2 separate regions of the Homo sapiens genome follow, and region 1 is linked to region 2. Evidence: fine-mapped expression QTL. A gene starts in region 2. The other region holds a variant in brackets. All regions are shown on one strand. Distances are from middle to middle.

What was found. PIP is the estimated chance that this variant, and not a neighbour inherited with it, causes the effect.
Region 1: its variant is the best candidate, but not a certain one, in a credible set for the expression of EFHB in nasal epithelium (TOPMed, PIP 0.60).

Annotation. Positions count from the first base shown.
Region 1 is chr3:19,897,579-19,902,960 of GRCh38, forward strand. EFHB (EF-hand domain family member B) reads right to left here. Exons shown (of 13, transcript NM_144715.4): 7 at 1,854-1,937; 8 at 1,200-1,267. Among named protein-coding and RNA genes, the nearest start is that of EFHB, 34 kb to the right of the region's middle. The variant G/A (reference allele first, on the strand shown) is at 2,388.
Region 2 is chr3:19,931,176-19,936,557 of GRCh38, forward strand. EFHB (EF-hand domain family member B) reads right to left here and starts at 3,042. Exons shown (of 13, transcript NM_144715.4): 1 at 2,055-3,042. The coding sequence starts at 2,843. RefSeq lists a silencer at 42-336.

The sequences.
Region 1 (5,382 bases), 34 kb before region 2:
ATGCTATAAATATTGATGAAAGATGTCCTATGTGCTGGACCCTGAGGATCCAACAGACAGCAAGACAGAGCACCCACCAGCATGAAGCTTGCCCTCAAACAGGCAGAATTTACCATGATTACCTACTTCTTTTTCAAGCTAATTGATGGTTTCCTAATCATCCCTTACCCTCTTCAAAAGATATTAAAGCCTCTAAGATGGATAGGCATCCATCAAACATTAGTAGTTTGTGTAAAAACAGAACCCAAATACAATTTCCTAATGTAGTAATTAATGATGCTCCAAACCACTGTCTTGCATAAGCTCAATAAATATTTATTCTACCTGTCAATGAGTTGACTTTAGCCAAAACATTTTTCATAGTGGTTCTTAAACGTTAGTGTATATAAGAACCTACTGAATCAGAATATCTAGGGCATGGGTCCCAGGAAGGTGCAGATTTAATAAACTCCCTGGATGATTTTAATGCAGGTAGTCTGCAGCCCATGTTTTGAAAACCACTGATATACAGCCCAATCCTGATAAGCTGTAGCATATTTTTCCCTTTGGATATCTGCTGTTTAGATTGGCTAGAAATAAAGACAAAATCCAAGTAAGTTTCTTCTGCTACTTTATGTATTGATTGATTGATCAACTTACTGGCTAGCTGGCTGGCTGGTAGGAAAAGAGTGGTTCTTAATTATGTGGTTGTAGAGTACAGTGCTTTCTCATATTTGAATGTGCTTAAAATTCACCTGGAAATATAGTTAAAATGCAGTTTCTGATTCAATAGTTCTGGGATGGGGCCTGAGATTCTGCATTTCTAAGGAGCTCCCAGGGGATGCCAATACTGGCAGTCTGCAGACCACACTTTGAGACGTTAGGACTAGGACAATATCCAAATTAATTAAAAAGCTGCCCCACTTCACTTTGGCTTGTTTAATATAGGCCATATTTATTTTTCCTAAATAAAATTCAAAGCCTTAACTACACTTACAGTACTTATTACAAGGGCTTCCAACTGTACCTATTTCAAACATAATATGAAAAAAAATTTACTTCTGTGTTATACACTTTTCTCATTAATGTTAATGCAACATTTTAAGTCTTTAAAATTAGAAGCTTTGAAATAAGGAGATGGTGAGCTTAACTGCATAACTTTGTGGGGATTTTGTTGCTGTTTGTTTGGGGTTTTTTACGGAGAAAGTGTGTATATTTACCATATTCCTCAGGACGGAGACAAGCTCCAAATGTGCAGTCTGGGGGAACATTCATTGTTTCTGCAATGCTATCAAAGAAAACAAATCCTTAGTTAAAATACCCACCACATGGCATCTCTGGAATTTAAAATATGTTTGCCATATGTTCTTAGTAGCCCATATTTTATCTCATAACCAAACTATGAAGATCAAACAAAAGTTCTCCAATAGATCTTTTGTCTGATCTTCCACTTGCATTAACAATGACTGAATGTTTTCACCCTCTTTCAGGAGCCCAGAATTACAAAGAAAAGCAGAACACACAGAACACATTCAAAGCAAAATTACCAAAGTATAAATAGAGAGCAAGACAGACAGACAGGAAAGACAAAGAAAAATATAAACACAGTAAGTTAAATCTCTGATATCCCAGAAATAATGCTTTATGCAAAATTATCCCTCTCTCTTCTCCAGTGCCTTCTGCATTTTGGAGAACTCACTGCTTTCCTGGAATCCCAAATTCTATAGATATTAACAGATTAACTGATTAACAATAAAATAATGATTTTCTTATTTAATAGATAGAATCTAATAGGCACACCAACAGTTACCACAAGAGTATTTTTTAAATTCTATGCAAAGAAACTATCAATTTGAAGTTAATCATTAACTTACGGATCTAAAACTCTTCCAAGTTTATGTTGAAACTTTTCTTTGAAATCATCTGCTCTTTTGGATACAAACTTAGCTCCTCTTTTCCTGCAAAATTAGAACATTATCAGGTATCTCTATTACCTAAAGTATTCTTGGCTGCCAAATATACATAAGGCGAAGAATACCATAGTATCATTAGGCCTTCCAGGAACAAATGTAGTTTCAAAAGAAACTCTCTGCTAAAAAGAAAGTTTTATGTGTTCATTTTTCTTTCATTTACACTAAAATAAAATAAACCTTGATTAATGAATAAGGTAAGCAAACAATATTTTTAATAAATAAAACAAGGTGTTAATATCACTATTGTAAGTGTAGCTCCTGGCCGGGCACAGTGGCTCACTGCTGTAATCCCAACACTTTGGGAGGCTGAGGTGGGCAGATGGCTTGAGCTCAGGAGTTTGAGACTAGCCTGGGCAACATGGCAAAACCCTGTCTCTTAAAAAAATACAAAAACTAGCTGGGCGTGGTGGCATGTACCTGTAGTCCCAGCTACTC[G/A]AGAGGCTGAGCTAGGAAGATCGCTTGAGACTGGGAGGCTGAGGTTGCAGTGAGCTGAGATGACGTCACTGTACTCCAGCCTGGGTGACAGAGTGAGACCCTGTCTCAAAAAAATAAAATAAAGTAAGTGTAACTCGTAAAATTGCTAGAAGAAAATTAAGCATCAGGCCAGGCACAGTGGTTCATGCCTGTAATCTCAATACTTTAGGAAGCTAAAGCTGGAGGATCAATCGAGGCTAGGAATTTGAGACGAGCCTGGGTAACATAGTGAGATCCCATCTCTACAAAAAATGAAAATAAAAATAAAAAAATTTAGCATCAAATAAATAAATAGCCAAAGGATATAAACAAATAACTCACATCTAGTAAGCAAATACATGGAGAATTTATAATACTCTCTAGTAATAAAATAAATGTAAAATAAAAGAATAACAAAGTGCCACTTCTAACCTAGTAAACAAGCAAATATATATAAGCATATGGAGAGAGAAAGAATATCTAACTTTGGCAAAAAAATATGGTAAAACACTTACAGATTGCTAGTGCAAATTCCTACAGTTCTTTTGAAAATAATTGGGCAATATGAATCAAAAAGCATAAAAACACTCATGCCCTTTTATCCACATCTGGGAACCAATAATAATGATATAATCCAGATAGCAATTAAAAATGTAGAAAAGAGCCTGGGCACGGTGGCTCATACCTGTAATCCCACCACTTTGGGAGGCTAAAGTGGGCAGATCACTTGAGGTCAGGAGTTCAAGACCAGCCTGACCAACATGGTGAAACCCCATCTCTACTAAAACTACAAAAATTAGCCAGGTGTGGTGGAACACGCCTGTAATCCCAGGTACTTGGGAGGCTGAGGCAGGACAGTCACTTGAACCTGGGAGTCAGAGGCTGCAGTAAGCCAAGATCATGCCACGGCACCCCAGCCTGGGCAACAAAGTGAGCCTGTCTCAAAAAAAAAAAAAATGTAGAAAAGTTATATGTATAAAAAATGTTTGTAGCCTCATTGATGACAGTGGAATAAAGAAAAGAATCAAAATGTTCAGTTGTGGAGGGTAATTAAATTCTGTCACATCAATAAGAATACACTGCATGCATTTTCAATGCTGGCATATACAGCAATATATAATTATTTTATGTTAGGTGGAAAACAGGATATAAAATGGGATTGCACTCTGGTAAAAACTATGCAAAAATCTACATAGGGAGCCACACTAGGAAAAAATACATTAAAATGATAATAATGGCTGAATTAAAGTGAACAGGATTATGAGCGATTTTATTTTGCCAGTTTTCTGTAAAATAATTTTGTTACTTCTACTGTTGTGATTAAATGAATAAAATTTCTTTTGAAACGTGTAAAATTACAACACTACTATTTAATAACATTAAAATTAATAAATTCTCTATTGTTTTGCTAAGACTAAAGACAATGAACATTACATTCTTAAAACTCCATTTGCTTTTCAAAGTATCTCCTGTACTATTGAACTACTGAGCTGAATAAATTTCTGGAGAAGAGTGACACTCTGTGGAGGAACAAAAGAAGAAACATAAGTAATTCATCTCGTTTCTTCATTTCCTTCCCATTTGTTGGCGGGGGGGAAGAATGTAGGTGGAGTCAGAATAAATCAATGCAGTTTAGGGCTATAACTTGAACAAACAGAGTTAACAATCTAAAAATCAGCTCCAGGCCAGGCGCAGCGGCTCACACCTGTAATCCCAGCACTTTGGGAGGTCGAAGCAGGTGGATCACCCTGAGGTCAGGAGTTCGAGATCAGCCTGGCCCACATGGCAAAACCCCATCTCTACTAAAAATACAAAAATTAGCCAGGCCTGGTGATGGGCACCTGTAATCCCAGCTACTTGGGAGGCTGAGGCAGGAGAATCGCTTGAACCCAGGAGGCAGAGGTTGCAGTGAGCCAAGATCACACCACTGCACTCCAGCCTGGGCAACAGAGTGAAACTCTGTCTCAAAAAAAAAAAAAAATCAGCTCCAAGGTACATAATTAGGAACATGCAGAGATGATAAGAAAAAGAACTGTCAGGCACAGAGCCAACTCTTTTTAGTCAAGAACTGCCTGGAGTATGCTTCTGCAACAATCAGGAAGTATCTGTGGGCAACCATGTATGTCAGAATATCAATAACTGCAACATCATTACACAACAATCTTGAGTTGCATTCACGAACCAACTCAGATAAAGCTCTTTGTGTGCCAGTGAATTCATTCGTTCACACATGCGCACAAACACATGCACTCGCACAGGCATGCCTACATCTGATGACTCAAACCAAAGTTTGATTTGACTTTGGTTTGATTATTCAAACCAAAGGTCACAGGCAAAATATAGATAGAGATCGTTTTTGTTTGTTTGTTTGTTTTTGTTTTTGTTTTTTGAGACAGAGTCTTGCTCTGTCACCCAGGCTGGAGTGCAATGGCGCCATCTCAGCTCACTTAAACCTCCACCTCCCGGGTTCAAGCGATTCTCCTGCCTCAGCCTCCCAAGTAGCTGGGACTACAGGTGCGTGCCACCACACTCAGCTAATTTTTGTATTTTTAGTAGAGACAGGGCTTCACTATGTGGCCAGGCTGGTCTCGAACTCCTGACCTTGTGATCTGCCTGCCTCAGCCTCCCAAAGTGCTGGGATTACAGGCATGAGCCACCATGCCCAGCCAATAGAGATCCTCTTTTACAGGGGAAATATATCCCATAAAAGTTGAGAGTAAACCAAATTTACATTAAATCGTGCATATAAAATTAGATGCCTCAAAATGTAGACTAACACTCTTGACTCCACGTTTGTAACAGAAATCAAACTGAATGAAGTAGTGAGCTCTTTTTAAACTGCAACCAAAAGAATAAAGAATTTCTCTACTGCTAGCAATAACATTCCAATTAAGTTTCAAAATACAAAAAGGGCTGGGCACAGTGGCTCACGCCTGTAATCCCAGCACTTTGGGAGGCTGAGGCGGGCGGATCACCT
Region 2 (5,382 bases):
AAACAAAAAAACCCTCCTGCCTCAGCCTCCCAAAGTGCTGGGATTACAGCTAGTGCCACTGCACAAGGCCTATCAGAGATGATTTAACACTGCTGGTCACTCTCTCCTTGACACTCTCTTTCTTGTCCTATCACATTTAGAAAGGAAGGTATGCGAAGTGGGAGGAAGCAGAGGTTTTAGAATTGCCTGTGCTGGAAACTGGAAGCTGGTGTCTGCATGTGTGTGAGATCAGATCAGATCAGAAGCTGTAAATTGCAGAACCAATCCAGAAATGGGAACCGGTGTGGTCAAGTAAAGTGGCTGGGAAAACCCAAAGAGGAAACCAGAAAGCAGTGTGAGACAAAGAAGAAAAGAACATTCTGAGTCTGAAGGGGAAAAGTCTTCAAACCCAGACAAAATTCTGTGGAAGCCCTGTGACCTCTTCAGCTGAGTTTTATTTTCAAATTTCAGTGTGTGGAATCTCTTACTCACATTATAACTTAAGGACACTTTCTTATGTTTCTCAATACCAATGTCTCAGACTTACTTTTTTCTTCTCCGACTGGTCTTTCTCCCATTTAATCATCCGGGTTTCCTTCTATTTATCAAACATGTATTTATTGAATGACCACCATAAGCCAGGTATTGTGGTATGACATGAAGGTAAACAATGAACAAGATATAGTCCTTGCCCTCAAGAACTCACCTTATTGACATCTTTTTCACTGACCACCTCATGTCAATGTTTCCCAAGATTCTTGCCTTGACTTTCTTCTCCCATTCACACCCATGGGGCATCAATTGTCTCATATTACCAAGTGTTTCCCTGGCTTCTTTACCTGTCATCTCATATTGAAGATAGCCAACACTGGACATTCATTTGCCACCAAACCCAAAGAGATCATTATCAACACAGAAACTCCTGAGTCATCCACCAACTTCCCTTACTCACCACGTAGATCCACAACTGAGTGGCAATTTTTTAAAATGTCATCTAAAAACCTCTCAAAAGTGCAGTCTCCTTTCTATTCTTTCTAACTCTACATTAATTCCAGTCCATCAGAACTTTGGAATGTTGTTCTAACTACCTACTTGTCATTCAGTATCTCCCCCTTCCAGTCCATCATAACTACTGATATCAGAATTATCTTTCTAAAAGGCAAATTTTATTTATTTTTACCCTTATTAAGATCCACCATTGATACTGTATCCATATGTTTTATCCCTATATTCTGGGCCTTTAGATGTCTTCTACATATTTCTTCTTCATCTTCATCTCTCAACACCCTGCTGGCTGAATACAACTGTTTATGCCTCTCGAACATAGGAAGCTTTGGTTGTGCTCTATACCTTTTTATGCCCAAAATGCTCTAACCTCATTCTTTCTTCAGACAAATACTGACACCTTTCGATGTTAGCTCAAATATTACTTTCCCTATTAAGCTTTTCCCATCTCTTCTAAACAGAATTGTGCAATCTTTACACTGAGCTCTGTATTCAGAGTGTACTTCTATGAAGGAAGAATCATGTGTGTTTTTATAAATTTAGATAACTGTATACTATTCCTTTAGTTATCTGTCTCCATTACTGGAGTGAGCCTAAACCTAGAGGTAGGGACCATGTACTTTTCAATTTAGTTTGTCCTGTACCTGGCACAATGGCTACCACAAGTCTTTGCTGAAAGAACAAATAACTCACAGACTAAACAATGAATGGAAAAAGAAACACTTTTCTTTTCCATTCATAGTATGAATATTAGGGCACAGCATGTATCTTCATGTATTTCAATATGTGAGAGGCTTGAGGAAAATGAAATGAAGGTTAAAGGAGAAAAGAGAAATCAGAACAAACCACCGGTGTGCAGAGAAAACAAAGCTGACATCTAGGAAGGGAGGCAGAGAATCAGAAATCTAAGTAACATCTGCAAAGATTCCAGTGGGGCAAGAAATATAGGAATCTCATAAAATCCTTGTGATTTGTCTCTTCAAACCAAAACAAATTTTATCACTTTATCATCTCAATAAAGACATGGCTATACACAGTTTAGTTCCTATGGAAAGTGGAAAAAAACTTACACTTGGCCAGCAAGGGGTCCGATCAAAAAACTTCCCAGAGTATATGGGTCTGATGCGATCTGGAGGTTCCACTCCTGATTCAATGTTTCCAGCCTCCTTTCTCTGTTCATGTTGTTGGGCAAACTGGCATTGGGGAGGTTCTATCACCAAGCCCATTTGGGGCTCTGTATTCTTAGTCTCATCTGGCCCCTCGGCTTGGGTTAGTCCAATGTCCACCTCCACAGGAAGCTTAATCTCTGTGTTGGGTTTCATTAAAACACAGGTAGACTCTTTTTCCATTTCCTGTCTTGGTTCCATAACGAAAGCAGGCTTTCCCACTAATTCCTCTACCCCTTCAGGGCCACTAGCCAAAGGAGCTCTCCTGCTCCCTGCAGCCTGTGAACTTCCACACACCCTGCCCAAAGGAGGCTGTATTATCCGTTCATGGGTATATCCTGCAAGAAGACTCTCATTTTCTAACCCCATTCTTCCTGGCAACAGAGAAGGTTTTGTTCCCTGTGAAGCTGAGACACTGTCGACTCCTAAACTACCCCTCTGCATGACAGTCCTAGAAATATTCTGTCTTTCTAATCCCATTTCAAGCCCCTTGCTCAATGGAAATTTTGTTTCTGGTGGTGCCATCCTTCCCTCACACTTATTACTAACCACAGGGCTCTCCCCGCATCGGGAATCTTCTTTTCCTAATCCTACTCTGATCCCCAACTCCATGGGAAATTTTGTTCCCATGATGACCCTCTTGTCTCCTAAATCATCCTTTCCTTCGTGGGGATGTCCAATCTCCATGTTCATGGACGATTTCTCCCCATTCTCATTTCTCCAAGAGCGCTCATCTCTAAGGGGAAAGCTGTACCTGGCTACAAAGACGCCTCCAATCCCTTGCGGAACCCCTCTCTCAGGAAAGAGCACAACCTCACTCGGACTCCCTGTCCATTGCTTCCTGCCTGCCTCTTAACACCTAGCCGAGTTCACAGAGGAAAAGATGGAGTCTGTTTATCAGGTTACCTGGGAAACAGGGGCGGGGCTTGGCGCTCAAGTCCTGCTTGGACAGATCCCTGCCCATCTCTCATTCTTCTCTCTCTCTCTCTCAATCTCTCTCTCTCTCCCCTCTTCTCTCTCCTCTGTCTCTCTCTCTCCCCTCTTCTCTCTCCTCTGTTTCTCTCTGCCCCCCCTTCTCTCTCCTCTCTCTCCCTCTCCTCTCCTTTGCCCTCTCCCTCTCTCTCCCTCTCTGTGTGTCTCTCTCTCTTGCCTTTCCTCTCTCCTTTCTCCCTCTCTCCCCTCCCTCCCCCTCTTCCCCTCTATCCCTGCTTCCTCTCTCTTTTTCTTTGCTAGATTTGGAGGGCGAGAAAATTTGAGTGATGTGGCTTTCGGCGCATCAAATGTTCACCAACTTCTCTGGTTTCCCAAGCAACACAGTCGTTTTAGAATGGTTTCAACAATTGGCTTCTTCCTGGCCATTGGCCTCTTAATGTTGGTGATGATGAACAAATAAACTTTCTGGTGATGAACACTTTTTTTAGGTCCTTCCTTGTCCAAGTACCTCCGCCCTGCATGTAGTTATTTTAGTGCTAAAAAATGACTTTAAATTCTAGAAATATTATATTTGACAACTGTGGCATAAAGACATCTTAAAGTCCTTGAGAACACTTACACTTTAACAACTAGGCTTTAAATCACATTTAAAGTAATTTTTTTTTTTTTTGAGATGGAGTCTCCCTTTGTCGCCCAGGCTGGAGTGCAGTGGCACAATCTGGGCTCACTGCAAACTCCGCCTCCTGGGTCCAAGCGATTCTCCTGCCTCAGCCTTCCGGGTAGCTGGGATTACAGGCATGCGCCACCATGCTAGGCTAATTTTTGTATCTTGAGTAGAAACGGGGTTTCACCATGTTGGCCAGGCTGGTCTCAAACACCTGACCTCAAGTGATCCACCGCCTCGGCCTTCCAAAGTGTCGGATTACAGGCGTGAGCCACTGCTCCTGGCCTAAACTAAATATTTTAAAGTTTGAGATATGCTACACAATAAGGCATATTGTATTTTAAAGATAATGTGGCAAACTAAAACTTCATTGTTTTTAAGTAGGAGATTTTTTTTTAAATTGAGGTTTCACCTTTCAGATTTTAATGAAAGTATATTTGGTAAATATTTGTCATGTTCTACACATATAGGATATGAAACCCCTAGCTTGGAATTTGAACTGAATTAGGCTGGGCACAGTGGCTCACACCTTTAATCCCAGCACTTTGGGAGGCCGAGGCAGGCAGATCACTTGAGGTCAGGAGTTTGAGACCAGCCTGGCCAACATCGCGAAACCCTGTCTCTACTAAAAATATAAAAATTAGCTGGGCATGGTGTCCAGCGCCTGTAATCCCAGCTACTCAGGAGGCTGAGGCAAGAGAATCATTTAAACCCGGAGGCAGAGGTTGCAGTGAGCCTTGATGGTGCCACGACACTCAAGCCTGAACAACAGAGTGAGATTCCATTTAAAAATAAAAAACCAAAAATGGCCGGGCGCAGTGGCTCATGCCTGTAATCCCGGCACTTTGGGAGGTAGAGGCGGGTGGATCACGAGGTCAGGAGTTCGAGACCATCCTGGCCAACATGGTGAAACCCCGTTTCTACTTAAAATACAAAAATTAGCTGGGCCTGATGGCAGGCGCCTGTAGTCCCAGCTACTTGGGAGGCTGAGGTAGAAGAATCGCTTGAACCTGGGAGGCGGAGGTTGCAGTAAGCCGAGATCACACCACTGCACTCCAGCCTGGCGACAGAGTGAGACTCCATCTCAAAAAAAAAAAAAAAAAAAAAGCAAAACAGAATTTGAAAAGAATTTACAGGATTCCAGAACTCTACAAAAACCCCTTAAAATCCAAAAATATTTTTTTAAAAGTGTGTAGGGGTCTGGACATAGTCACTCACCTGTAATCTCAACACTTCGGGAAGCCAAGGCAGAAGAATTGCTTAACGCCAAGAATTCAATTAGCCCAGCGTGGTGGCTCACATCTGTAGTCTCAGCTATCTGAGAGGCTGAAGTGGGAGGATCACTTGAGCCCAGGAGGTCTATGCGGCAGTGAGCCATCATTGCACCATTGCATGCCAGCCTGGGCGACAGACTGAAAAAAAAAAAAGTCCAGGAGTTCAAGACATGCATGGGTAACACAGTGAGACCTATCCCTACAAAAAATTTCAAAAATCAGCCAGGTGTAGTGGTACATGCCTATAGTCCTAGCTACTCAGGAGGCTGAGGTGGGAGGATCACTTGAGCCCAGGAATTGAAGGCTGTAGTGAGATATGATCATGCCACTACACTCTAGCCTGGGTGATACAGTGAGATCC